Regions from separate parts of the Homo sapiens genome. Here regions 2, 3, 4 and 5 are each reported to be linked to region 1. The links are microRNA targets in miRTarBase. Many come from high-throughput screens and were not tested one by one. Region 1 holds a microRNA gene; each other region holds the end of a gene's coding sequence.

The links. Region 1 holds the annotated microRNA hsa-miR-567 (AGUAUGUUCUUCCAGGACAGAAC, at 1,794-1,816, shown strand). A microRNA usually pairs through its seed, bases 2 to 8, with sites in the 3' UTR of a target mRNA and lowers its output. Matches are read on the target gene's strand: a 7mer-m8 pairs with bases 2 to 8, a 7mer-A1 pairs with bases 2 to 7 and ends in A, and an 8mer does both.
Region 2: the mRNA of DGKH is a reported target of hsa-miR-567. Seed matches in the 3' UTR shown: 7mer-A1 at 2,461-2,467, 7mer-A1 at 2,465-2,471 and 7mer-A1 at 2,503-2,509.
Region 3: the mRNA of ADH1B is a reported target of hsa-miR-567. Seed matches in the 3' UTR shown: 8mer at 4,034-4,041 and 7mer-A1 at 3,427-3,433.
Region 4: the mRNA of SV2B is a reported target of hsa-miR-567. The part of its 3' UTR that is shown has no 7-base or 8-base seed match.
Region 5: miRTarBase lists BNC2 as a target of hsa-miR-567. Seed matches in the 3' UTR shown: 7mer-A1 at 3,855-3,861 and 7mer-m8 at 2,411-2,417.

The regions. Positions count from the first base shown.
Region 1 is chr3:112,111,023-112,116,129 of GRCh38, forward strand. It overlaps MIR567 (microRNA 567), which reads left to right and starts at 1,779; the gene lies at 1,779-1,876. It overlaps C3orf52 (chromosome 3 open reading frame 52), which reads left to right. Exons shown (of 6, transcript NM_024616.3): 5 at 1,942-2,123. RefSeq lists enhancers at 3,814-4,073, 4,094-4,173, 4,184-4,233, 4,464-4,553.
Region 2 is chr13:42,228,234-42,233,340 of GRCh38, forward strand. DGKH (diacylglycerol kinase eta) reads left to right here. Exons shown (of 30, transcript NM_178009.5): 30 at 866-5,107. The coding sequence ends at 955. Among named protein-coding and RNA genes, the nearest start is that of AKAP11, 41 kb to the right of the region's middle.
Region 3 is chr4:99,303,428-99,308,534 of GRCh38, forward strand. ADH1B (alcohol dehydrogenase 1B (class I), beta polypeptide) reads right to left here. Exons shown (of 9, transcript NM_000668.6): 9 at 1,544-4,437. The coding sequence ends at 4,413. Among named protein-coding and RNA genes, the nearest start is that of ADH1A, 15 kb to the left of the region's middle.
Region 4 is chr15:91,291,871-91,296,977 of GRCh38, reverse strand. SV2B (synaptic vesicle glycoprotein 2B) reads right to left here. Exons shown (of 13, transcript NM_001323032.3): 13 at 1-4,609. The coding sequence ends at 4,426. Among named protein-coding and RNA genes, the nearest start is that of CRAT37, 170 kb to the left of the region's middle. RefSeq lists an enhancer at 4,965-5,107.
Region 5 is chr9:16,414,835-16,419,941 of GRCh38, forward strand. BNC2 (basonuclin zinc finger protein 2) reads right to left here. Exons shown (of 7, transcript NM_017637.6): 7 at 1-4,815. The coding sequence ends at 4,155. LOC124902125 (a long non-coding RNA gene) reads left to right here. Exons shown (of 3, transcript XR_007061425.1): 3 at 455-542. Among named protein-coding and RNA genes, the nearest start is that of LINC03041, 140 kb to the left of the region's middle.

The sequences.
Region 1 (5,107 bases):
ACATGGTGAAACCCCATGTCTACTAAAAATACAAAAATTAGCTGGACGTGGTGGCGCGTGCCTGTAAACCCAGCTACTTGGGAGGCTGAAGCGGGAGAATTGTGTGAACCAGGGAGTCGCAGGTTGCAGTGAGCTGAGATCGCACCATTGCACTCCAGCCTGTGACACAGAGAGACTCAAACAAGACAAAACAAAACAGACCCAGTGTACATGGTACTTACGGTGACATCTCTGCACTTTATTTCAAGAAGTCCAGGCAGAGGTCCTAAAGTATTGAATTGAGGAAGAAAAGCCATTGCTTCCCAAAGGGTGCTGCTGCACATGGGTGGGAGGCGGCTAAATCCCTGGCACATGCATTTGTGTCTACAGGGGCATTGTGACCTCAGCCCTGGACTGGCCCAGCTAGAACCTGGAAAAATGCCCTTTGGTTTATTAGCTGCTAGACTCACTCCAGTGGTGGGCAGCTGGGCGAAAGGCCCTGAAAGTTGCTCTTTTCTCAAAATTCAGCCTCATGTAAATTTACCCTGTGACCTGCCATGGGGGATTAGGATGGGCTGGCCAGGCCAGGCTAGGTGGCCTGATTTTCCCATTCAGCTTCTGACCTGGTCTTCTGAAAGTCAGACTCTGGCCCTCTTCATTAGCCAGCCCAAGTCCTTGCCCCTGGGAATGCAGGGTGGCTGGCTGTGTAGGTGTTGATCATCATTAGCGATAATTAGAGGGCAGAGCTCAGGGAACAAGTTATGACACCTGCAAACTAGGTTAGCTGGATTGCAGTTTGAAAGTGCATTTTTTGGCCCTCCTTTAGTGGCATCCTTGAAACTATGAGTTTCTTCAGAGTCCTGACTCTCCATTATTCATTTGATCTGCAGGATCTGGCACATCTCCCAGCCGTAGTAGAGTTTATAAGCTCAATTGTCAGCCACCTTGTAAGATCGAAGAGTATCGGCCTATGTGACCTGTAGCCAGAAGAGGGAGCTCTTTGCCTATCCTTAGCAGGGGCAGTGGCCTGATTCACACTAATGGGACTGGTGCATCTGCAAAACTTCCCCAAGGTGATAGTCTCAGATGTGGCCTCCTGCTCATTATTTTATTGCTGGTTCTTAATCTGGCCCATCTTAAACCAAAGTAATAGGATAACTATGAATAAACTAAATGTTGAAGTAGCATTTAAAGAGTAGCATTAGACACTAATTAATGGAGGGTAGCCCTTGATTATTTTTATTTTGGAAATGGGAAAAAATGTTCTAGGAAGATGAAAATTCCCTTTCCTTAGGTCCCATTACTGAGAGTTACAGGGCTTGGTTATCTTGCCCTAGGGGCCTCTGGAAATGGGACAGAAAAGTTTCTCACTTTGGGGACAAACCAGGGAAGCCTGATTTGTTGCTGATACACAGGGTGGTCTCTGTCAACGTTCAGAAGTTCTGGACCCAGCCAATGGTAGGAAACTTTGGCTGTGCCTTAAACATTTTCATAGGTCAAATAAAGAATTGGTTAAACTAAATATCCCTGGCACACCTTTGTGGGGGCAATGCTGAGAACATGAAGAAGGAATGTGTGTGGAGAAAAGGGGAGGCTTCCCTGGCTTGCCTTAAGGGATGAAGGCTGGGGTTGGGACAGATGGTGGGTCAAGCCTGGGATCTTCTCAGCATCTTGACTGGAGATGGGCACCTCTACCTCTACCTCTGATGGCCTCTCCCAGTGGATTCCTAGAGGATAGGTACTAGGTGGAAGGAGGAGGTTAGGATCACCTCAACTTTTTGTGATGAATCTATGGAAGAGGATTCTTATAGGACAGTATGTTCTTCCAGGACAGAACATTCTTTGCTATTTTGTACTGGAAGAACATGCAAAACTAAAAAAAAAAAAAGTTATTGCTTAAATTCATTTCTTGAGTTGCAGTATGATGCTGTTTATGTTTTAATGTCTTCCATTGCCTTTCAGTGGTGAAAATGCCACAGTAACGTATGACCTGCAATTTGGGGTTCCATCAGATGATGAAAATTTTATGAAGTATATGATGAGTGAGGAGTTGGTGCTGGGCATTTTGCTACAGGATTTCCGTGATCAGAATATACCTGGTTGTGAGAGTCTGGGGCTTGATCCAACATCCCTCTTGCTCTATGGTAAGTAGAGCAAGTAAAGAAGTCAGAGTTGTGACAATAAACAGGTGAACCAGATTGGGGTCAAATTGGCTTGGTTCGATTTGGCAACTGTGGTGACTTGGTACTGTGTCAGACTATTCATTTATTCACTCATCCCCTCAGCAGATGGTGTTGCTGTGAGGTGATGTTCCCCTCTCTGTGGAGGCTACACAGTCCGTGCCCTCCATAATTAGACAGTGTAGTTGGGGAGCAATTATGGAAAAGATAATTCAACTATAAAGATGAACATTGCTACATGTTTCCTCATGCAGTTCACCCACATTCTAAGCCCTGTATCCTACTTTACAACATGATTAGCAACCTTTATGGAGATACTGTGGTTTCACAAGAGAAGTAAGAATTGAAGAATTGGAAATAAATGATACAGCTAAATTGCTGAAAGAGTATCTCAATATGGGGAACCTATTTCTTTTTCTGTTGAAGGCCACTGAGACCATTAAGAAATTAATAGAGGGGTATACAAAGACAAGTTTATTCCTTTCCTTAGAAAATTATGACAAATTTACTTGTCAACTTTTAAAATTAAGAACAGAACAAGGAAATAGATATGTTCTTTAATAAATGTAACAAACACCCCATTTATCAGAATCTGAGAACTTTTGACACTCAGAACAAAACCTGACAGAAAGGAAGGTCAGAAGGCCAAATGGCTTCAAGCCCTCAAAATATCCTTCCATTGCTTTGTAGTGAAGCTCTGGCCTTTGCTGCTGATCTCACTTTCTGATACCTCGCTCGGAGGCTTGTTTGCTCTTATTTAGCCCCTAATGCCAACAATCTTGAATATTTTATGTTCTCATCCACAGTCCATCAGAATCACTTTCTCCACATGAGTAGGTTCTCAGTAAATACTAGTTGAATGAATGAAAGGCAAATTAGAAGTAGTTGTGGTTGGCAGCAGGTGCATTAACGGTCTAGAATCAGAAGCATGGAACAGGGGGTTAAAAGCACAAGTGTTAGTGCATAGTACAAGACAAGGTGTTTATTATGATGATGACACTGTTTCTTGAGGATGAGAGGCAAGAGTAATGTTGGCCTAAGAAGGCAGAACGTTATGTAAAACAGTTCTTAAGAATGCCATTCAGAAGGCCAAATTTTAGCTCACTGGAAGTCTCATAAATGGAGATCTTCCTCACAGAGCATCCTGAATAAAGTGTGTCTGTGGGTCAGGCAGACACTATATGTGTGTGGAGTGAAGAGATTGTGCCCCAGTTACAGGAATTAAAAAAAAAAAAAAAAAAGCCAGGCGCGGTGGCTCACGCTTGTAATCCCAGCACTTTGGGAGGCCGAGGCAGTTGGATCACCTGAGGTCAGGAGTTCGAGACAAGCCTGGCCAACATGGTGAAACCCCATCTCTACTAAAAATACAAAAATTAGCCGGGCATGGTGGCAGGTGCTTATAATCCCAGCTACTCGGGAGACTGAGGCAGGAGAATCACTTGAACCTGGGAGGCAGAGGTTGCGGTGAGCCGAGATCGCATCATTGCACTCCAGCCTGGGTGACAAGAGTGAAACTCCATTTCAAAAGAAAAAAAAACCCAGAAACCTTCAGCCTCCTCCCATGTGAAGAGGCCTGCGATGCCTGTGGGGGCTGCTGCTGTGGTGTGGTTGGTCTTGATTTTCTTAGGCCCCTTGCAAAAATTGTTACTGGCTCTTTCCAAATGGAGGCCAGGGAGATGGGCAGAGGTCTGAGGAAAGGTTTAAGAGGCTTCCAAGGCTGAGAGGTTCAAATAGTACAGGATAAAGGGCAGGCTGCTTGTGAGACCTGAGGAGGGCTCCCAGAAGACCCTGAGCTTGGCCAAAGAGACTCAGCTGTTTCCCCAGGGCTTGGTGCTCCAGCAGGTGCTGGGAAGGCAGCTGTGAGTGGAACAAAGTCTCTGCTCTTCTGGAAATTGCATTCTTTCTCTCAGACATTTCTTCTGACGGGACATGCTGAGAAAATGTGGGGTTTTCTGTGACCCCATGTCCCACTTTCCAGAGCATGAATGTGCAATATTTGAGCCATTTTATGTTTTCAGAATGTGAGTGTCACTGCCCTCTCAAAGGGAAGGGTGCACAGAGAAGCAGTTGGGAAGTGAGGAAAGAAGAAGAGGGACTCATCGCAGGCATGCAGGCAGATGGGGGATGAGCTCAGAGGCAAACTCTAGAGAAAGGGAAAATGTGTCAGGGAGAGGCCCAGGGCCCTGGGAGGGACCAAGAGGGATGGAATGAGTTCTTACGCCAGTTTCTACGTGCTCATGAGCTGTGGGCTTGGGGGATTACCATCCCCGCCCTGTGATTACCCAGGCAACTAGTTTCCCACAATGGTAATGTTCTTAGTCTTCAAAGAGCAAAGATTCTTAAAATTGTTTGGTTTGTGTGCTCCTTAGAGAATTTGAAGACAGCTGTGTACCTTCTCCCCAGGAAAAAAAAATGTACCTACTTCTCCCCACAACACAAAATTGTACAGACAATTTCAGGGATTCCGAGTATTTCCCTGAGGCCAGCCTATGGTCCATTTGGGGTTTGTATATGTGCGCTTTAGAAGCAGAATCCAAAATTAGATTGTAATTTAGATTCCTGAGGGGTTTTGTGTGTGTTTGCTTCTCATTCTCTAATTTGGAAATACGGCGATTATTTTGACCTGACTGCATGCATATTTGGATGCCTTATAAAAATAAAAACTTAAAATATAATGATAAAGGAATTTTTTAAGTCCATCATCCCTCACCCTTCCCTATCTTTGGTCTTCTTCACCTCCTAGATGAGTGGGGCCCTGGGCTAGGAGGGGGAAGTCTGTTTTACAAAGGTCGAAGAATAGGTCAGCATCATGAGTTATTTTGGACACAGAGGAGGTACTTGGTACTGTTCTCACATGGGAAGGAGTCAGCTAGTAGACTGAGTAGGGAAAAAGGGCAAAACCAGGATTTTTGTGAGAGAGAAGAGGAAAAAGCCCCAGGTAGGGAGAA
Region 2 (5,107 bases), not on the chromosome of region 1:
TCTTGGCACTTATAAGAAGAAGTTTCTTTAAGAAGCAAGAATAATAATTTTGAGAGAAAAGAGCCAATAGTGTTTTGAGGGAAAGCATCAACCAACAGATAATTATGTTTAAGTAATTTTTTACACACATACATTACAAAGTATAAAGACTAATTAAATTAAATATTCCTCTCAAATTGAAGCCTTGTAATGCAACTGCAAATGCATTTACAGTCCAAATTTATGTAGCAGATACTGGTATCTTTCTCTAGAATTAGGTCTCACTTTTAAATTTAATATTTTAGCACAAGAAATGTTGCCTTAGGACTAATTGTGGGTGCCCTGCTGTCCCGCATCATTTTTTTCTCAGAGATCCCAAAAGAGCCTTTGAGAGAGAGAGAGAGAGAGGGAGAGAGAGAAGAAAAAGAAAGAAAAGAAAGAAAGAAGAAAGGGAGAGAAAGAAAGAGAAAAGAAAGAGAGAGAGATGAAATAAAGAAAGAAAGAAAGAAAAGAAAGAAAGAGAAAGAAAGAAACTAAATTGGTTTTGACTTTTGAAGTCAAAAGCCACTGTGTATAATTATGAGAATGTCACAGTTAAGAGTTTATGTAGAATGTGATTTTTTTTTGTACCAGTTGGGAATTCTTTGGTGTCAGGTTATTTTTGTTTTATGAACTTATTTTTCTAGCTTTCACTTCCTGAATCACTGAATATAAACTAAAATGAATGAACTGAATGCTAATTATGTTTCTTGCTGGTTAAATATTTAATCCCCAATTTTCTATTTTCAATAAACTTTTTTCCTTTTCTTTCATTTTTAAAATTTTCTTTCTGTGTTTTTTCTTTCATTTTTAATTATTTCTACCTTTTTCTGTTCTTTTATTTTAGGATCTGGGGATACCGAAAGTGGGTCATGTGAAGCGAATTCTCCAGGGAATTAAAGAGCTTGGAAGGAGCACTCCACAGTCGGAGGTGTAATCATATTGGTGCTATTTCTTGGAAGAGAAGTTATTGCCACTTAATACAAAGTCCTTGGAAGCAAGTGGCTGTTCTTGTAGTTTTCTGCATAGATAAGTAAGCACCACTGAAGCACCTCTGTGGCTTGATATTTTGCTGTGGGTGAAATTTTGATTTGAGGTATTAGAAAATATTTTTGTGCCGAACAATACATTCCACAAAGCCATTTTCTTTTTGTGCAAACCTGACATGTTCAAATATATTCACAATGGTAATAAGGTAGGAGGAATCTGAGACGATTGCATTGTCTAAACAGTGGAATTGCAAAATGTTTACTTTCCATAGATCTGGTCTGATGGAATGTTCCTACTGTGCAACTGCATAACAATATGTGGTTAAAACTTCCTAGGTTTCATTACGGGGGGGCATTGGCCATTTTCTTAAAATCATAGGTTAGGAGACTAAAATATAAATTAAGTTGTGATTTGAATGTAGATTGGTATCACCTCCAACTCCTAGTGCTTAGTGGTCAAATATGTTGAAAACCTTTCCAATACTATGAATGAATGCAAATCTTAATGCACGATGTTCCTGCCTGAAATGTCTTTCTTTTTCTTGCATGTCACATCTAATACTGTAACACTTTAAATAGCTTTCATGTCAGTTTTAATGTTAATGGGATTTAATTTATTACTAAAGTACATTTTTGTTGGTTAAGGGCACTGCACTTTTCTGTTTTTTAATGTGGGATTTTGCGTAAATATTCTGTACCTAAGACTTTGTGAAAGTGTGTCTGTGCCATAATCAACAAATGATATACATCACATGCAAGTCAATTTTATTTCAATCTATCATAAGCAGTAGGCGTGCACGTTAAGAAAATTCTCTGGATATTTTCATAAAATTACATGCTCCCTTACCTGACAAAACTTGTTACAGCTTTCCAAACCAAAATTTCCACATTTTGTTTCTAATTTTTAATTTCAATTTAATAATTATTTAATATTCTATTTGAATTTATAATATAGTAAAGTGTTGATATCCAGGAATTCCCTGAGGTGTCAACTGAGATTTATATACTGACAGATAACCCAGACTCACCCGCTCTCTACAGTGACTTCTGACACGATCTTCCAAACAGAAGGGATTTAAATTTTTTCTTAAGGGCTTTATGTTGTTATTATTATTATCTCACTTAATTCTTAATTCTTATCAGGTGGATATTATTTTCCTTTTTCTAAACCACTGTACTTCAGTGTAGCTTATTATTAGAAGTCAACATTACAATGATCAAATCTTTGAAAGCCAAAGGCATACGTATCAAAAAGTCACAAAAATATCCTTAAATAAGCTTTCTTTAGCCATTATATACCAAAACATTAATTATAATATTTTAAAATTTGTATATAAGAGAAATAAACAGGGTACTGACTCAGTGGTGACAATTTTTATGAAGTAGCCTGCTAGGTGCTTAATAGATATATATACACACAGATATATACATATACACATATATGTGTATATATACATACATACACATATACATTTATATGTGTATATATATACCTACATACATATAACCTTGTGATATGGCATCATTGATATTTTCTAGACAATTATTTCCCCAGTGTTTAAAGAGAAATACTAATAGGCGAGCATTTAAAATGAACTATTGTCAGGCATATTATTTAATTACATCAAAGGAGTTTAACTGTTTGACACTTTACTCTTGTTTATAACTTGGGTATTTAACTACTAGTAAAAATCACAAAATTTTAATGTCTTTAAAATAAATGACCCTGAGGGATTCCTGACCAAGTATGTCTGACTATATATTTTACCTAAGTTGTAAATAAATGGAAATTTTCCAAAGACAGTTATATCAAGTAGTTTAAAAAGTCATGAGGCAGGGTGCTGTGGCTCACGCCTGTAATCCCAGCACTTCGGGAGGTTTAGGTGGGTAGATCACCGGAGGTCAGGAGTTCGAGACCAGCCTGACCAGTGTATGAAACCCCATCTCTACTAAAAATACAAAAATTAGCCGGGTGTGGTGGCACGCACCTGTAATCCCAGCTACTCGGGAGGCTGAGGCAGGAGAATTGCTTGAACCCAGGAGATGGAGGTTGCAGTGACTGAGATCACACCACTGCACTCTACTAGCCTGGGTGACAGAGCAAGACTCCCATCTCAATCTCAAAAAAAAATAGTCATGAATTATGCAATTATTCTAATTGTATCTGCACTTACGAAGTCAGAGGTCTCCTTTTTCAGTCCCTCTGATAGTCCCACCTAAGTGCTGTCCTGCTCCTGTGAACACTTTCCTGTGCAACCAAACAGGAGGTGCCAGGTTCCCAGAACTCTCTAACATTACAGATCTCTGTCCATCTTTACTAAAAAAAGGAAATGTGAGGGAAAGAAGGGGAAGAACTCTAGCATAAATAATGTATTAATATAAATATCTATATTGATTTTCACCCCCCATTCCCCTTTGCTAATAGAAAAGAGTCTAGCTATGATGTGTCCCAAATTTAAGAGTGTGATGTGAAGGACTGAATTTTTGTTTGTTCGTTTGGTGAGCTTTTCACTCGTAGGTGACATCTTTTGTATATGCTGTAAAGTCTCAGTTAATGGAATCCTACAGTGCATTTCTGGCTAGCTCGGTTGGTAGAGCGTGAGTCTCTTAATGGAATCCTTAATTAGCTAGAATTTTCCTGCAAATGGCTTTGGATGAGGGAAATTCTATAAAATGACAATTTGGATATACTTTTTGTTAAATGAGAGCAATTTTCTCTGTATGCTTTGTCTATGCATGGCTGTGCAGGGCCCAAATGACTTCACTGACACCTGTTTCCAGGAGGGGGTCTTCAGAGCCTCCTTAGGCTCTTGTCAGTATCATAAATAATTCCTCTTCTTATAGCGGATGGGGTTACCAAAAAAAATAAAAAGTAGGGAAGAGCTTCTCCATGGGATCAGATCACAGCTTTGGGGAGTGGGATGGGGCCTCTATGCTTTGATCTATGCATGAGCTGGGGTGAGAAGTTCCCACCTGCACCTGACTGCAATGACTGTAATGGCTGGAATTGTCACCTCTTCTCCCTGATAGGCTCTTCCTCACCTGGAGGATCGGGGCTGGTGGGAGGGCAGGGAAGGGGAGGCCATCAGCCAGAATGTATTTTCTTTCAGTTCCATTTCCTGAGGAAGAACTTGCTTTTAAAGGAGGAAAGGGACAGAATCAGACCTAAATAAAATTCCTGAGTATGCAATATTTCTCTTTAGTGTCTCTTCACCTCCCTTTCTGAGTTTCTTTCCTACATCCTGGCTCTTCATTTTCCCAATGCCCAATATAATCATGGTTGCTGAAATTCTCACTGCCTTCTACTTTCCTTTCCCCATCAATTAACCCACTACAAAATGACCCCTTTCATTTCTCGCTTAAGCATACATGGTGGGTCATTTAACTAAGTGTTAGGAAGAAAACAATTTAAAGACACTAATTTTACAGTTTGCGTTCTGTAAAAGGATACTTGCTGGATAATCTAAGTGAATTGATGGATTAGGTCATTTGGGATTGTGATATATATTGTTCTTGCTGACAAGAAATGACCCATGAATGTCTAGATCTATCCTGTCCAATATTGTAGCTACATGTGGCTATCTAAATTTAAATGTAATTTAATTAAGCCAGGCATAATGGCACAAGCCTGTAATTCCGGTGACTCAGGAGGCTTAGGAGGGAAGATGGCTTCAGGCCAGGAGTTTGAGACCAGCCTCGGCAACATAGTGAGACCCTGTCTCTGAAAAAAAATTTTTTTAACTAGCTAGGCATGGTGGCATGCGCCTGTAGTCCCAGCTATTCTGAAGGCTGAGGTGGGAGGATTGCTTGAGACCAGGAGTTCAAGGCTGCAGTGAGCCATGATCATGCTACTGCCCTCCAGCCTGGGCAGCAGAGCAAGACCCCTACTCTTTAAAAAAATTAATTTAATTAGAAACTCCATTTCTCAGTTGCACTAACTACATTTCAAGTGTTCAGTAACCATAGTGGACAGTGCAGATGTAGAAAATTTCCATCACTGCAAAAATTCTATTGGACAGCACTGGTGCAGATCATTGCTACTCAAAATGTGATCCATGGGCCAGCAGCATCAATATTACCTGGGAGCTTACAGAAATGCA
Region 3 (5,107 bases), not on the chromosome of region 1:
AAACATTTCTATGACTCTATGAGTAATATCATCCCAAGGCTTTAGAGGTGGCTGTGATAGTTTATATTATTTTGACCTTTATGTGGTCAGTTTTTTTTTTTAAGTGATTAAAATCTCAATTACAGTACCTTTAAATTAGTTCACAATTACATATACATGTTGGCAGCTAGAATCTTTCATTACTGTTTCTTTATGAGGTAAAAAAGTAATAAAGTCATAAATCTCATCATAACTGACAATATTGATGTCAAGCTCCTACAAATGATTAAAGAATGCGATTGACATTCTTGAAGAAATTGTTAAAGTTCATTGTCCTGCCTCTATTCAAGACTTTCAAAAATAGTATGTAAAGAAATTACATAATATTAGTTCAAAACAGTTATGGCTCAAAAGTTAACTTTAGTTTTTCAACTCTTTTCAGATCCAGGTTTCTGAGGGGAACAGCCTGTTTTATACATTTCTATGTCTTTCTCCATGCTCATATGAACCTATATACTAATAAATAGGAATTTTAATTTGTTTTGTTTTTTCTTTCACAAAAATTGGATCATGTAATACACATTATTCTGTACCTTGCTTTTTATACTTTCTGATGCTTCATATTAATTTCTCCAGATTTTTAGATAAAATTTTTTTTTTGAAATGAGGACTTGCTTTGTTGCCCAAGCTGGAGTGCAATGGTGCCATCATGGCTCACTGCAACCTGTGCCTCCTGGGCTCCAGCGATCCTCCCACCTCAGCCTCCCAAGTAGCTGGGAATACAGTTGCATGCCACTATGCCTGGCTAATTTTTGTGTTTTTTTGTAAAGACAGGTTTTTGCCATGTTGTCCAGGCTAGTCTGGAACTCCTGAGCTCAAGTGATCCACCTGCCTCGGCCTCCCAAAGCACCGGGGTTACAGGTATGAGCCACAATGCCCAGTCCCCTATTTTTTTTTTTTTAATAAGATTCCCATTCAAGGCCGGGCGCGGTGGCTCACGCTTGTAATCCCAGCACTTTCGGAGGCCGAGGCGAGCGGATCACGAGGTCAGGAGATCGAGACCATCCTGGCTAATACTGTGAAACCCCGTCTCTACTAAAAATACAAAAAATTAGCAGGGTGAGGTGGCGGGCGCCTGTAGTCCCAGCTACTCGGGAGGCTGAGGCAGGAGAATGGCGTGAACCCCGGGGGGCGGAGCCTGCAGTGAGCCGAAATCGCGCCACTGCTCTCCAGCCTGGGCGACAGCGAGACTCCGTCTCAAAAAAAAAAAAAAAAAAAATTCCCATTCAAAATAGGGAGTTATCATTCCGTTATCATTCCTTATTCTGTCAATCAATCAGAGAGTTTAAAAATTTTTGTTTCTTCTACAAGTAAGGCTGCTGCTAATAGTCTTGTTTCTATATTCTTATACACAGATAATTATAATTATGGAGTCAATTCCCAAGTGTGATATTGCTTGGGATATGCATGTTTAAAATTTTAATAAAAATCACAAATTGTTTGTCAGAAACCTATGACAATGCACATTTATTTCTACCAACAGCATAAGCTAATAGGTAAGCAGTAATATCTCATTTTGCTTTATTTTTTTTTTTGATCACACCAAGGCTCAGTGCCATTTAATATGCTATTTTGCCATTTTAGTTTCCTCTTCCACGAATTTCCATCATTGTTCATTTTCCTCTTTGGTTGTCTATTTTTAAATGAAAAAGCACCAGGATTTTAGAAATATCTTTTTTTTTGGTCAATCATATATGACCCAAATCAATATGACCAAAAAAATGAAAACATTTTTTCCTTATCTATATTTTTAGATTATTTGTTTATACCAGAATTTGAAATTTTTCTCCATGCTCAGAATTTCATTTTAAATATGTTCGTGATATTATTGAAGTCACCCCCCCCCACTTTATTTGTTTTCATATATCATGAGAAGTCAAAGAATCAAAGCAATATATTCTCACAGCCATGCACATTTTCTCCCTGTCTTCAGTCCTGTGTCTGTCACTCTCATAATCCTGTTTCAGCACCTATGAAGGCACTTCTGTGGAATACTTGATTACAGACCCAGCCAATACTTTCTACACTGGAATACATATATATATATATATATATATACAATCACTTAACTATATGAACCACTTGCCCCATAGTGTATATATATATATATATATATATATATATATATATATATATATATATACAATCACTTAACTATATGAACCACTTGCCCCATAGTAAATTTTCTTTTTTCATAGTGCATGATGCAGAAGGCTCCCACATGCCACTCCCATCCCATGGAGGACTTGCCACTCTATGACAACACTGGCAGAGCCCACCTAATGGCTCCCACTCTACCTGCTCCCCGAACCTGGGAGGAAGGCGGGTGGGAGCTGGATGTCAGCTTCTGTGTCACTAGCAGGATTTGATGACCCTGCTGTGAGATGGGCATGTAGAACTCCATTTTCTTTTTCTGGATCTCACACAATCAGCATCAGTGTAAAAGCCGCAGAGCACCCAGCAACAGGTAGTGTCCCATGATGATGTTATCTTACGGACATTCTGAAAACTTTCTTGACCCTGAGTAACTCCTTCAGCATTTTCTTTTCTTTTCTTTTGACAGAGTTTTGCTCTTGTCGCCTAGGCTGCTGTGCAGTGGCAAGATTTCTGCTCACTGCAACCTCCGCCTCCCAGGCTCCAGCGATTCTCTTGCCTCAGCCTCCTGAGTAGCTGGGATTACAGCCACCTGCCACCATGCCTGGCAAATTTTTGTATTTTTAGTAGAGATGGGGTTTCACCATGTTGACCAGGCTGGTCTCAAACTCCTGACCTCAGGTCATCCACCCGTCTTGACCTCCCAAAGTGCTGGGATTACAGGGATAAGCCACTGCGCCACCCCCCACCCCGCTTTAGCATTTTTGACAAAACAATCAGGTTACCCACATTTACATGGCCCTTCTTAATTGGCGAAGCTCTTTCATTAACATCATCCCATTTAATCTTGGTTAAGCTGTAATGGATTGGTTGAGTAATTTTTTCAAAACAAAGGATGAACAAGCTCAGAGAGCCTGAGAGACTTACTGAAGATCACACAGTAAATGATAAACTATTTTACTTTATGTCTAAGGTCTTTCATAATATGAAATAGAATGTAGATATTGCAACAATAGCATTTTTGGAGACAGCTACCTCCTTTACCAGGAATAATCTTTGCATGTCACATTTAGAGATAAAGCTCAAAATGCAAATCCTTCCCCTGAGAGTGGGAAAGCATTAACAAATGAGAGTGGGAAAAGCATTAACAAAGCATTAACACAGGTCTTTACATATTCAAAATATTAAACTAATGCTAGGATTATAGACTTGATTTTAAGACATGGTAGTTAATAGAAAAGTTCTAGATTGAAAACAATTTTGCAAAAATATACATTTGTATATGTGTATATATGTATGTGTATATATATATCTACTAGGAAAATATATTGCTTAAGGTGTTTGTGCCATTTCTTAGTTACCAATTTTACATTCTGCATTCACAGCATTTGCCATCCCATCTCTACACTTAAAGCCACCATATTACTTTTAATTACTTTATACACATTTTCAGTCATCATCTAAATAATCATTTATAGCCACAAACTAATACTGTTTAGTCAATGAAGCACTTTCATCAGCAAAAATTACAGATTTTTTGAACATGATTCTGGGAATAGTTCAGTTTTTACAATTAGTAATTGAGGCTTTGTCATATGAAGCAAGAAATCTGCTATTATTTTAAAAAATCAATTGTATATCGACCATAAAGAAATAGTATAAAAGTCATAAAAACACTGCCATTTACTGTAGTAAAATGTGGGGCATTTTATTTGAGTTCCTAAGAAATTTCCTGTATTTAGAACTCTTGGACCTTCACTACTTGTAAATGTGAGTCTATCCTTTACCTTACCCTAGCTTTTACCCCAGGGATTTGGTACATTTTTATTAGAAAAAGGAAAATGTCGACAGTGAAAACTGAGACAGAGTTAGAAGACTTCAATCACAATGGCCCAGCATGTGTATGTTCAGGGCAAGTAAAAGGGTCCCCTCCACTGGGATTCGATGACTAAAGATTATGAAGATACCAAAAATGCAAGAAGTCACAGGAATATTTTTCCTCAATGGCAAAGGTGACACAGTAGAATGGTTAAGAAGGAAGGTTTGTTGGCTTCAATTCCCCAGCTGATGTTCAACACTTTATTTACTTCTCACTTGAATTTTAAATTTTCCTGAAAAATAATTTCCCATCAATTTCCATTTCTTTGGAAAGCCCCCATGTGTAATTTATTGATAACATCTCTGAAGAGCTGAATTAATGATATTTCCTAGCTGTTGCTCCAGATCTTGTAGGGTAGAGGAGGCTGAAGACTGCTACAGGGGAAGGCATCTCTATTGCCTCAAAACGTCAGGACGGTACGGATACTGCAATAGGAAAGAAGAGACATTGTGTTAACATTTAGACAACCCACATGCTTGTTGTGAGAGTCCAAGGAGCATCTGAGGTGTCTTAGTGAAAATCTGTCTGTGATCCCAGCTACCCTATTTCCATCCCCATACATTTGGTTCAAGAAAAAGGAAGTTCATCTTTTTTGGTTTTCTTTTCTTTTCTTTTTTTCTCCAATCTTAATCTCACTCACAACATCCTGAGTATGCCTGTCATTTCAATTCTACATTAATTCTACATTAGCATCTTCAAAAAATCATTTTTGTGTGCCCACGTTCCTGGTATAATAAGGAATATAAAACAACAGTGGATAATAACTTGCAGTAAGTTCTTACTATTTGTCACATTCTTCGTGCATTTTCTTAAACTTCAACCTAAACATCAACACTAAGAGGTAGGTTCCCATATTATGTCCATTTTAGAGATTATAAAAACTGAGACTTAGAAAGATTTGTAACTTGCTCTGGTAGCACATCTAGTATGGAGTGTTGGGATTCAAACCCAAATACAAATTTGCAAAAATTATAAGATGATGGATAACTTGCCTGAAAGAATTGATAATTTAACAAAGTTAAGACTATGCTGGAAGTTTAAAAGACCTTTGATACGGATGTTTAAGGATTTGTAGAAGTAGAGAATAAAGTTGAT
Region 4 (5,107 bases), not on the chromosome of region 1:
GAAGGAGCGTGCTCCCAACAATCGGGCAGAATGAGCGTGCTCCCAACGATCGGGCAGAAGGAGCATGCGCCCAACGATCGGGCAGAAGGAGCGTGCGCCCAACGATCGGGCAGAAGGAGCGTGCGCCCAAGATCGGGCAGAAGGAGCGTGAGCCCAGCGATCGGGCAGAAGGAGCGTGAGCCCAATGATTGGGCAGAAGGAGTGTGCTCCCAACGATCGGGCAGAAGGAGCGTGTGCCCATGATCGGGCAGAAGGAGCGTGTGCCCATGATCAGGCAGAAGGAGTGTGCTCCCAATGATCAGGCAGAAGGGGTGTGCTCCCAACGATCAGGCAGAAAGAGTGTGCTCCCAACGATCAGGCAGAAGGAGCGTGCTCCCAATGATCAGGCAGAAGGAGTGTGCTCCCATGATCAGGCAGAAGGAGTGTGCTCCCAACGATCAGGCAGAAGGAACGTGCGCCCATGATCAGGCAGGAGTGTGCTCCCAACGATCAGGCAGAAGGAGTGTGCTCCCAATGATCGGGCAGAAGGAGTGTGCTCCCATGATCAAAGGCAGCCACTCCAGCCCTGGCTTTCCTTCCTCCAGATTCCCTTCACATGAGAGTAAAACAAACCTTTAACTTACTATAAACTTATTATAAATTGGTTTCTTTGAATTTGCAGTCATATGCCATCCAACATAATCCCAGGTCAGTTAGCACAGATGCCCCCTAGAAAAGCCAGATGTGGAAGTGGAGACACCTTTCCCAGGGCTACGGGGATTCTTACCCCACTCACCAATGTCCCTCTTGCATTCCTGGCCCCTATCTCTTCTTCCATGTAACCCTTTCTGTAAAACTGATTAGGTAAAAATCGATTAGGTCTGTAGAAAATGGGCAAGGGCATCATTTCCCTTACCTGGTTTATAAAGATAAAAAATTGGTACACTCCTCAAAGAAAAAAAAATAAGAGGGAGCCACCACATTTGGAAATCCACAGCTGACAAGTAAAGTAGTAGCAATCCTTTTACACATGAAAGGTGCAGTTTGCGGATTGTAAGGTCATCGTACTCGGTGTTTATGGCCAATTTAATATCCGCTCACTGCAAGTGGAATGAGGCAGGAAGCAGAAACTGTGGCCAGTTTTTTCATCACTGTGTCCCCAGGGCTTGGCAGAGAGACTGGCCCATGGTCAGGGCTCAATAAGGATTTGCTGAATGAATAAATGGATGGATAAATACTAATCTTTTTATGTTTAAACTGATGCTTCCTCTCATTATAGTAAAGCCATCAAGGGAATAGTCAATGAATGGTCTCAGGGAATGGCGAGTATTTGTCACATTGTCCCATTCCCCAAACTGCAGGCTTCCCCAGAACTGTCATGAGAGCATCACCTTAGGCCTTCTCGCCCACTCCTCACATTACATGTAATCTGGGCCACATCGTTTAACCTCTCAAGGTCCCCATGTTGCAAAATAAAAGTTGAAGGAAGCGATTCTCAATGTTTCTCCCAGCTGATTCAATCAATTTTGGAATACAGAAGAGACCTTAGTGCCTGAAAATAATCTCTAACCCCAGTCCTTAAGGTTTTCTTACAGTTATTTTTATTATTTAGTTTTAATGAACTAACACAACGTAGGAGGGAACGCTGGGTTGGGGTTTACTTGTTACATGACCTCAGGATGATGTACTACAAACTTCACAGATAGGCACACCTCTTTCACTAATTATTTTTAATAAAACAAAAGATCAAAAATCAGCATCAGGAGATGACACAATACAGTTGAGACTATGGAAAGCAACTATTTCCAAGCTGGGCATCATAAAATACATCATCAAGAACTGTGAACAGATTTGCTAAACAAAGGAAAGCCTCATCCCTTTAACCCTCCACAGCCGACATCGGGAGTCTCTTGGGGTAGAACATGAAGTGAAAAAGAAGTGGATGGCCAGAATGCTGTACATTGTCCCCCAGTGACCTGCCACAGAGACTATTTTTAAAGACGCATTTATCTCAGCAGGAGTGACGGCATTTAAGAAGTAGCCCGGTACTCAGGCTAGACAATCCTGCAAAAGTCTGCAGAGCTTGGCTGCACCCTTTACAAAGACCTGAGTGATGGATGAGATGGGAATTGCCCTTGATTGGCTAGGTGGCTGGTTTAAAGAGCCATAAAGATAATGCAGAAGTGAGATCTTGGAAACCAAATGGAGTTAGCCCCCAAATTATTGCAGCCACCCCAGCACTCCAATGTTAATCCAATTTTAAATTTACAAGATCCATCTTAACTAGAAATGCAGGCTCTAACTGTCCTGCAAGTTTTTTAAGTGGTAGCTGCTCAATGAATTGTATTATCCCATTAAAGAATAATGTTTTAGATGTGGTAATCCCAGACTCACACAATTCTCTTTTATGAACCTAGCCACTGTATTCATATGGAAAGTAAATTACAGCTATATTACATCGAGCCTTTCATTATTGACAGAGCAATAAATGTTAGTACTCCTATAAAACACTGAGAGAAAGATTAATACACAGTGGTATATATATTTGGAGGAATCAGGGTGTCCAGTCAGAGTCAATATGTCTTCTCTCCCTGTACAGAAAAAAAGGGAGGGGTGTAAATAAAAAGGTGAGGGTTGACAGAAGGAGAGTAAACATTTTAACCATTAAAACTGATCTCAAATCGACGGTGGAAAGGTGTCATAAGATTTACCCCTACCAACCCGTTAATTGAGGAAAATTACAGAAAGATGTCCCGAAGCTATCATAGGACCTAAGCATTTCTCCAATACTGAGAAAACACTCGATATAGCCATTATTATTCTGTTTTAAATTTTTGGAGATCTCTGCCAGGGAAAATGTGGCACTTGCCCATTGAGAGCACTGCAAATCAACTCAAACAACTAGTTCTTGCAGGCTGATGTTCATCCGGCCTGGGCAGGTGCAAGTTCACCTCCGCTGGCAGTTGTGCGTAGCTCACTGTCCCCTCCATTGTCAGACAGTTCTGATGTTTTTCCTCTTCCATGCAGTCAAGACTTCAGTCTATTGCTGACCTTCATCAGAGAGGTTTGTCCTAAGCTCCTCCCCCAACCCACACCCCTGTTTATGTTCAAAGCTGGACTTCAGGAAACAGTTCTCTTAAGCACTGAAGAAAAACATATTTGGCATCCACTACACTCCCTAACTCCCACTCCAATGGACTCTGTTTCAAAAGCTCTGGACACATAGCATAGATTTCTCATGAGACCTGACCATCCTAACAAATATGGATTGCATTTGCATTTTACCACTAGAACAAACAAAAAGTATTTACATTTGGAAGAACTGTGGCTACACTTCCCCATCCTTCCCTCAGTCCCCATGTTGTTTGATTCTTGCCTGCAAAGAGTACCAGAGGCCACTGAACACATCTCACATTGTTTTTGGGTAGTGGCAAAGTAAAATGCCAGCACTGAAGATGGTGAGCTTGAGTTTCACAAGTCATCTGTGTAAGGGAGAGAAGTAACTACTCACTACACCTGCACAAAGAAAAGTGCCTGGATTAAGCAGACTGCACAATGTGAGTTTGTTAATTCATCCTCCCAACAGAAAGTTAAATGGCTGTAAGAAATTGTGCTTGCATTTCATTTGATCAGACCTCATTTCCTGGGACCTCAAACACCAAGTTCTCCCAAAATATGGCTAAAATGCTGGCAATATTTGCAGATACCAGTTGTGGAAATTAAACCCAAATAAAGTTATATACAAACTTAGTTTACAGAATAACTATCCCATTCCGTTTCTTTGAATAGAGCAAAACAGAAATAAATATCCTTCTTAAATGTATTACCTAATTATCATGGAAAGCCTAGGAGACATAGGAGAAAAGTAGATCTCTATAGATGTTGCTCAAATACTTGGCTTTCTAGATCAGAGTATCCTCAATGCTACTATGTCAATTTTCGAGTGGAAAATATGATAGGTGATACTTTTAAATGCAAAAATATATACTTCAAGCCCAATCTTCATATAATGACTCTAACTTCCAGCCAAGTTGATTTGTTAAGTTGTTGGGCTCCAAGGAGCTTTCTGGAGGAACCTGGGTGTTTCTGACCCTCTAATTCCTTTTCAAACGCAAGTTAAGTCCTTGCACTTGACTTAGAGAAATGCTTGCTCCTCGCATAGTGTGTGCACTCACTGGAGAATCCTCTCCCTGCCTTGGACTGGGAAGACTTGAAGTTAAACACGCAGCTCTGTGATTCTAAGGGTGGCTCAGGGCACCCCCAAATCAGTCACCTGAGTTACAAACATATTGACAGCTGAAGTGGGTCCTAAACTAGGGGTCACAAAGTCAACTTCTCCTCCCGTGCTATCCAAGGTGTCCTCCGGACCGTGATAGGCAGGAAGTGTGGATGCATTTCAGTGTCCTGGACAAGATTCTCTCGACCTTTCCTTTTCCCATAGGTTGTTCACATCAGGACCTGTTCTCGAGTCTCTGGCAGTCGAAGGGCAATCAGGCCACCCCCAACCAGAGAAGCAGCAGCCAGAAGGATGGGGACCACTTTGGTTATCCCAACAAAAGAAGCAAAGATGGTGTTTCCCAGGATGGCGCCAAATTTGCATAATCCATTGAGAATGCCGAAGGCTGTTGCTCTGTAAAAGAGGAATGGAAATAATTCTGACATTCTGAACCACATTAGATGAACAGGACTGGGCTCTTTCTTTTCCTTATTGCAGGGGGAAGAGGGTGCAAGGGAGTTTTTTTTCCTAAATATAAAAATAACACATTCTCATTGTAGTCAAATTTGGAAATACAGAATAATATAAAGATGCATGGATATCTAACCTCTTCACCGAGACACAATCACCTCTATTAACATTTTGAAGTATTTTCTTCAAGTGTTTTTCTTTTTTGTTTTTTTTTCAAAGATATCTATTTAAAACATTTTTATAGGTACTACATGCTTACTATGGAAATCTTGAAAGGATGAAGAAGTATACAAAGCAGAAAGTGTAAGTGTTCCCCCTTTTAACACTCTCAACCCTCCTGAAGCAGAGACTGCCAGTTGCCCACAAACAGCATTTCCCCAAATGTAGGACTACATTTCCCAGACTGATTTGCTGCTGAGCATGGCCATGTGACTTAGTTTT
Region 5 (5,107 bases), not on the chromosome of region 1:
TCACATTGTATTTGGTGGGAACCTAGTGCATAGTTTCTCCTGAGGAGAAGCCTCTGGAATAGCCCATTCTTGATATATTCAAAGTTTTTTTTTTTTTTTTTTCCTTAGAGCAATGTATAATAATGGGGCTGTTAACCAGTTAAGTGCCTTTCTCCTCTTACTGGAAGGGCCTGAAAATTCATGACCAAAGAAATAACACTATGAGGACAGTGGCACCATTGTGCCAAAAAGGTTTTAAAAAATGTTTGCCATGTTGAAAAGGAAAACATTAACACCTTTAAACCTTTAAAAGGCATCAGGCTGAACAGGGCAGCTGGACTAAGATCTGGAATGAGTTACATTGGGTTGACTTATTTAAATACAATTAATATCAGAACAAAGAATGCCAAGGATTTTTATCACACTTTTAAACCAAATTCCTCATTATCTATCCTTTTTTTCTCTCTTTCCATAGCATGCAGATATTCCCGAAAGCGGACTAAACCTGATATTTACAAAAACATAGTTTTAAATGATCAAGACAGTACAAGTTTCAACATCAGCTAGAGAACATGCACAGTCATACCGCCTAATTTTGTACCTGTGATAAACTCTGGCTAAAACCAATCACATGGGGAAAAGCTTGTCGGATGAACATCTACATCACTATTAATTTTCAGCCAGCATAGAATGCATGTGGCTTGAGAGAAACTGTTTAACAACAAAAAACTCCTATGAAAAAGCAAATGAGTAGGAATGGGCAAAGATGAGCTCCATGACTAAAACGCTGATCTCTTTATCCTTCCTGTTTGCAAATAAGCCATGGGATCACCATCTTAACTAGAATTCTAGTTAAGTCAAAACAAGACACTCAGGCACACACTCAAGAACGAGCAATACTTTGGAAACAGAAGAATTGTACATTTTATGATTTTCCATTGCATGTACTACATCCATCCACTCCCCTGTCCCTTTTAAGCAAATAGGCTTTATATTGGAAAATGTTATTTACTCATTTAGAAGGCCACCGTAACGACTGGGCACTTGAGGCACAAAAGTAGTAGCAAATAGGGGAGATACTTAAAAAGTGTCAGCTGTCCAGGACTTATTGCCACTTCTCTGACAAAACACAGGTGAACACATTCATGTTTCCAAGCAAGGGAAACTCTACTTCTAGAATCTCATTACTTCTGGACTTTTTCTAACTGGCTATACACATTAGCTTGGTTTGCAGCAAGTAACAAACATTTGTTCTAAGCCTGGTGCATTTGCTGATGTGACTGCCGACAGCTATGTAATTCACTCACGAGGGCTATCTGACCTTTTATTTGACATTAAATTAAACAGACTAAACATTGCTGTTGTACAAGATGAGTTCTAGTAACTCAACTGAGTGTAACTTTTCAAAGTTGCTGAAATAAAAATGTGTATTTATTTTCATAAAACTACATGTAGTCTATGCACACTGCAAAAGCCAGAGTTTCTATAATGTTTTGTTGGGATATTAAAAATCTTTTCCCACCCTTTTTGAATCTAACCATTTGGTAATGGGGCAACAGCACAACACAGAGAACGCTGAGAGGACCAAAATGTTTGCAAACAAACTTTCATTATTCTAGTTCAATCTTTCACAAACATACTGTACAGAGTCTTATATGGTATAAAACAAAGGAAAACATCTGTCTGTTCAATTTAACACAACACCAAAATAAAGCAATTAAGACTTTGGGGAATTCAAAGTACAAGAAAACAAAAACGATTATTACTAATTCCTCAGCTTTTTACCATAAACACTTGTCATTTAACATAGTGTTTGATATAGTTTCTTTTGTACTGCAAATACTTTTGGTCTTTCCTCCCCGTAGAACAAATGAAGAATTAAAATGGACCCCATAGCATCCTCTGAAGGAGGTGAAAAGATAAAGCTCCTAGACATAGCTAGCTTATCTTTAAGAATCTATTGTTTCTGAAATTTTCACAACAAAAATACTGAATCCCCAACTAATGATGCTTATTTTGGGAAACAATAAATACTGTGAGGTACAATAAATCCTACAGGAATAATAACAACAGAAACATATTAACAGTTTCCTTTGGCAAATTTAACGGAAGTGAATGCTGATGTGAACATAGAAAAAATAATTACAAAAACATGAAAAATGGAAACGACATAAAAGTTAAAATAAAGGGATATTTCTAACTTTTAGACTGATGAAAGAAATGTCTGAGGCCATTAAATGCAAAAAAGAAATACATTCTCTTTAAATTATTGTGTACTGTTTGACAAAATATTCCTTGTTTATCTCTTCTTTTCCCCTCCACTTAAAAAAAAAGGAAAAAAGAAAAAAAAAAGACAACAAAACAGTCTGCAATGCACACCCTAATGGTTTTGGCTGCAGACTGAACTTGAGTAAATATCATCATTTAGTCAGTATGTTGTGGTAGCTGAGGCTGCCGATGTGGTTAACCAGCTCAGGCAACATGTGTAAACATCGGAAACAAAACAAAACAAAAAAGGTTTGGAGAATAGTCTCTCTCCTCTTTCTCACTCTCAATTGCTTGGTTTCAGGCTTGCTTTCATTTCTCTCTGACAAATCGTGTGGGGAAACACAAAACACTGAACATTGAGAGATCCTGCTTTAAAACCCCCTTCTTCTGGCTTTTCAGAAAGGAGTGTTGCTCCATTCAAGTTTAGCACATGTTTTCAAAGCTTCCAAGTACTGCTGCTGTTAAATGCCTTTTGATTTTGTCTACCAAACAGGCCTGAATTATAGTACGACTGCAGAATTTGCAACAAATTAGACAGCCATACAACAGACCGACCCAGTTCAGAGGATTTCTTTTTAAAGGATAAGGGTTAGGGCCTTGGAAATGAGTGTTCGACTCTTTTACTGTATTCATCTTTGTTCCGTAGCGGGTAATTTGGGCTTTTGTATCCTGAAATATTATCCTGCCTCTGAAGAATAAATGCCTTGGCTGTTTCACACCACATAATTTTGTTTTCCTTTTATGTAACTTAACGTATAAGCAAGAAGGATGCAATGTTGATTCTAATAACATTCGGCACTTGAAAGAATCACCAAGTGTTTTTTTAAAAAGCGGTTTTCTGGTGGCCAACAAATTGGCCTGTGGTTATGTTGAGTGACTAATTGTATTTTCTTTTCTGGAAACTTGTGCAAAGTTGGCAGTTTTGTGTTAACACTAATACTTTGTTTGGCATTTGTGCCCTATACTGACCAGACCATTTTTATACAAGTGAATTTTTTTTAAAAAAGACACTTACTGAAGTATGGCAATAGTTTAAGGATAAAAAAGAAGCATGGTTATTACACATCCCCTTGTAGTGTATGAAAAAAAGTGCATGACGGGATTTATGTACTAGTACAGGACATTTTAAAAAATCAGATCTGTGCTGTAAAGCATGCCAGCACCTCTTTAGCACTATATCTAACAGGTAGTAAAAACAAGACCATGTTTTTTTCTTTTTTTAAAAATGTGCATTAATGCTAACATAAATGAATAGAGCTAGCCAGCAAACTATCTTTTCCTGCATATCTAACAGCTGGATGTAACTGTAAAAATTAAACAAAAAAGTTAAACAACCATCAATACAATTGTTTTACATCAATGGCCCCTCAAGGCTAAATATTTACAGGTGAATCTGCCATGCTTTAATTGAAGATTCTTTCAAAACCTTAAAGTTCACAAAAGACAACTATAAGAAGTTCCTTTTTGTTTCTTTTTTCTTTTTTTTCCCTTTTATTTTTGCAGGCAACAGTCATGGGTACAACAAATTGTCTCTTTGGGGAAGACCAAGAATTATTCTGTCAAAACTGGGGCTAGTTGCACACTGTGTGTGTGTGTGTGTGTGTGTGTGTATGTGCATGTGTGTGTGTGTGTGTTTAAAGGGGTACTCTGTTTTCACCCTGAAATCAAAGATCCCACTCCTTTCCCAAAACTATAAAGGGAAGTGAAAAAAATTCAAAAGCACCTAGTGTTTATCTTGTTTATCTCAAGGAAATACGTGTGTGTATATGTAGCCACAGAGCATACATAAATGCACACACACACACACACACACACACACCCCAAGTACATAAGCGCACACTGACTATGGCAGTTCAAACACGTAGGCCATCTGGTGAGAGCTGGCATTTGTAGTGTCCATTCTGAGACTAATCTACTGAAGTGAAGGGAATGTTTTTGTGGAGATTAGGGTTCTGACTGTGCCGATTTCGGCTTCGTACAGAGGAAAACATCATATTGCAACCTGGGACTTTGCACTTGTGCATTTCTCTCAAATGCACAGTTTTGTAGTGCACTCTCAGGGTCCCCTTGTTGCTGTACATTTTGTGGCAAATGTTGCACATGATCCCACCATTGCTCCCAGACAAGCTGCTGAACATAAGAGATCCTGAAACTTCAGCCCCTAGGCTGCCAGGGAGGGCAGGGGCCTCGGCCTTGTGTGCCGACTCCCCACTGTCACTCGCCCCGTCAATGTCATCGAGAAGAATCCCCTCATCGCTGCCTGCGTCGGATTCTCTGGAGGAATGGATACTGCTGCTGGACTGGAGGCTGGAGGTGGTGCTCAAGTCAAGGACCATGTAGTCCTCTGCCATGCCTCTCCCATACCCGTTCAGGTGGGAGTCTTCAGTCCCTGCGGGAGAGGAGGCGTCTTCCCTGACATCGAGCCCCATGGGGTGCTGGGCACCATATATCTTCACCAAAAATTCATCGCGGAGGTCCTTGCTAAGGGAGGGCTGCGACGAGTCCAGGCCCATGTCATCGAGTTCTTTGGTCAACAGTTTACGATGTAGGTTTATGTTGGCACTGTGTCTAGGAAAACAAGAGGGAAGGGGGGGTACGTGGATGGGGGGTGGGGAAAGGTGAGAAAAAGGAAAGCATTTTAAAATTGATTCAGCTTTCACTAGGTATCAAATAAGCACATTCACTTCTAATTACACCATTATAAAAGCAAGCATTCCCCTATATCCTCAGGATCTGGGAGTTAGTGGTGGTGGTGAGAGGTGCAATCAGGGGAACTTTCCATTAACATTATTTTTATAAGAGAGTTGACTCTGTCAATGGTAGGATGAATGCAAACCCGTGCACCTTTTTCTCAATGATT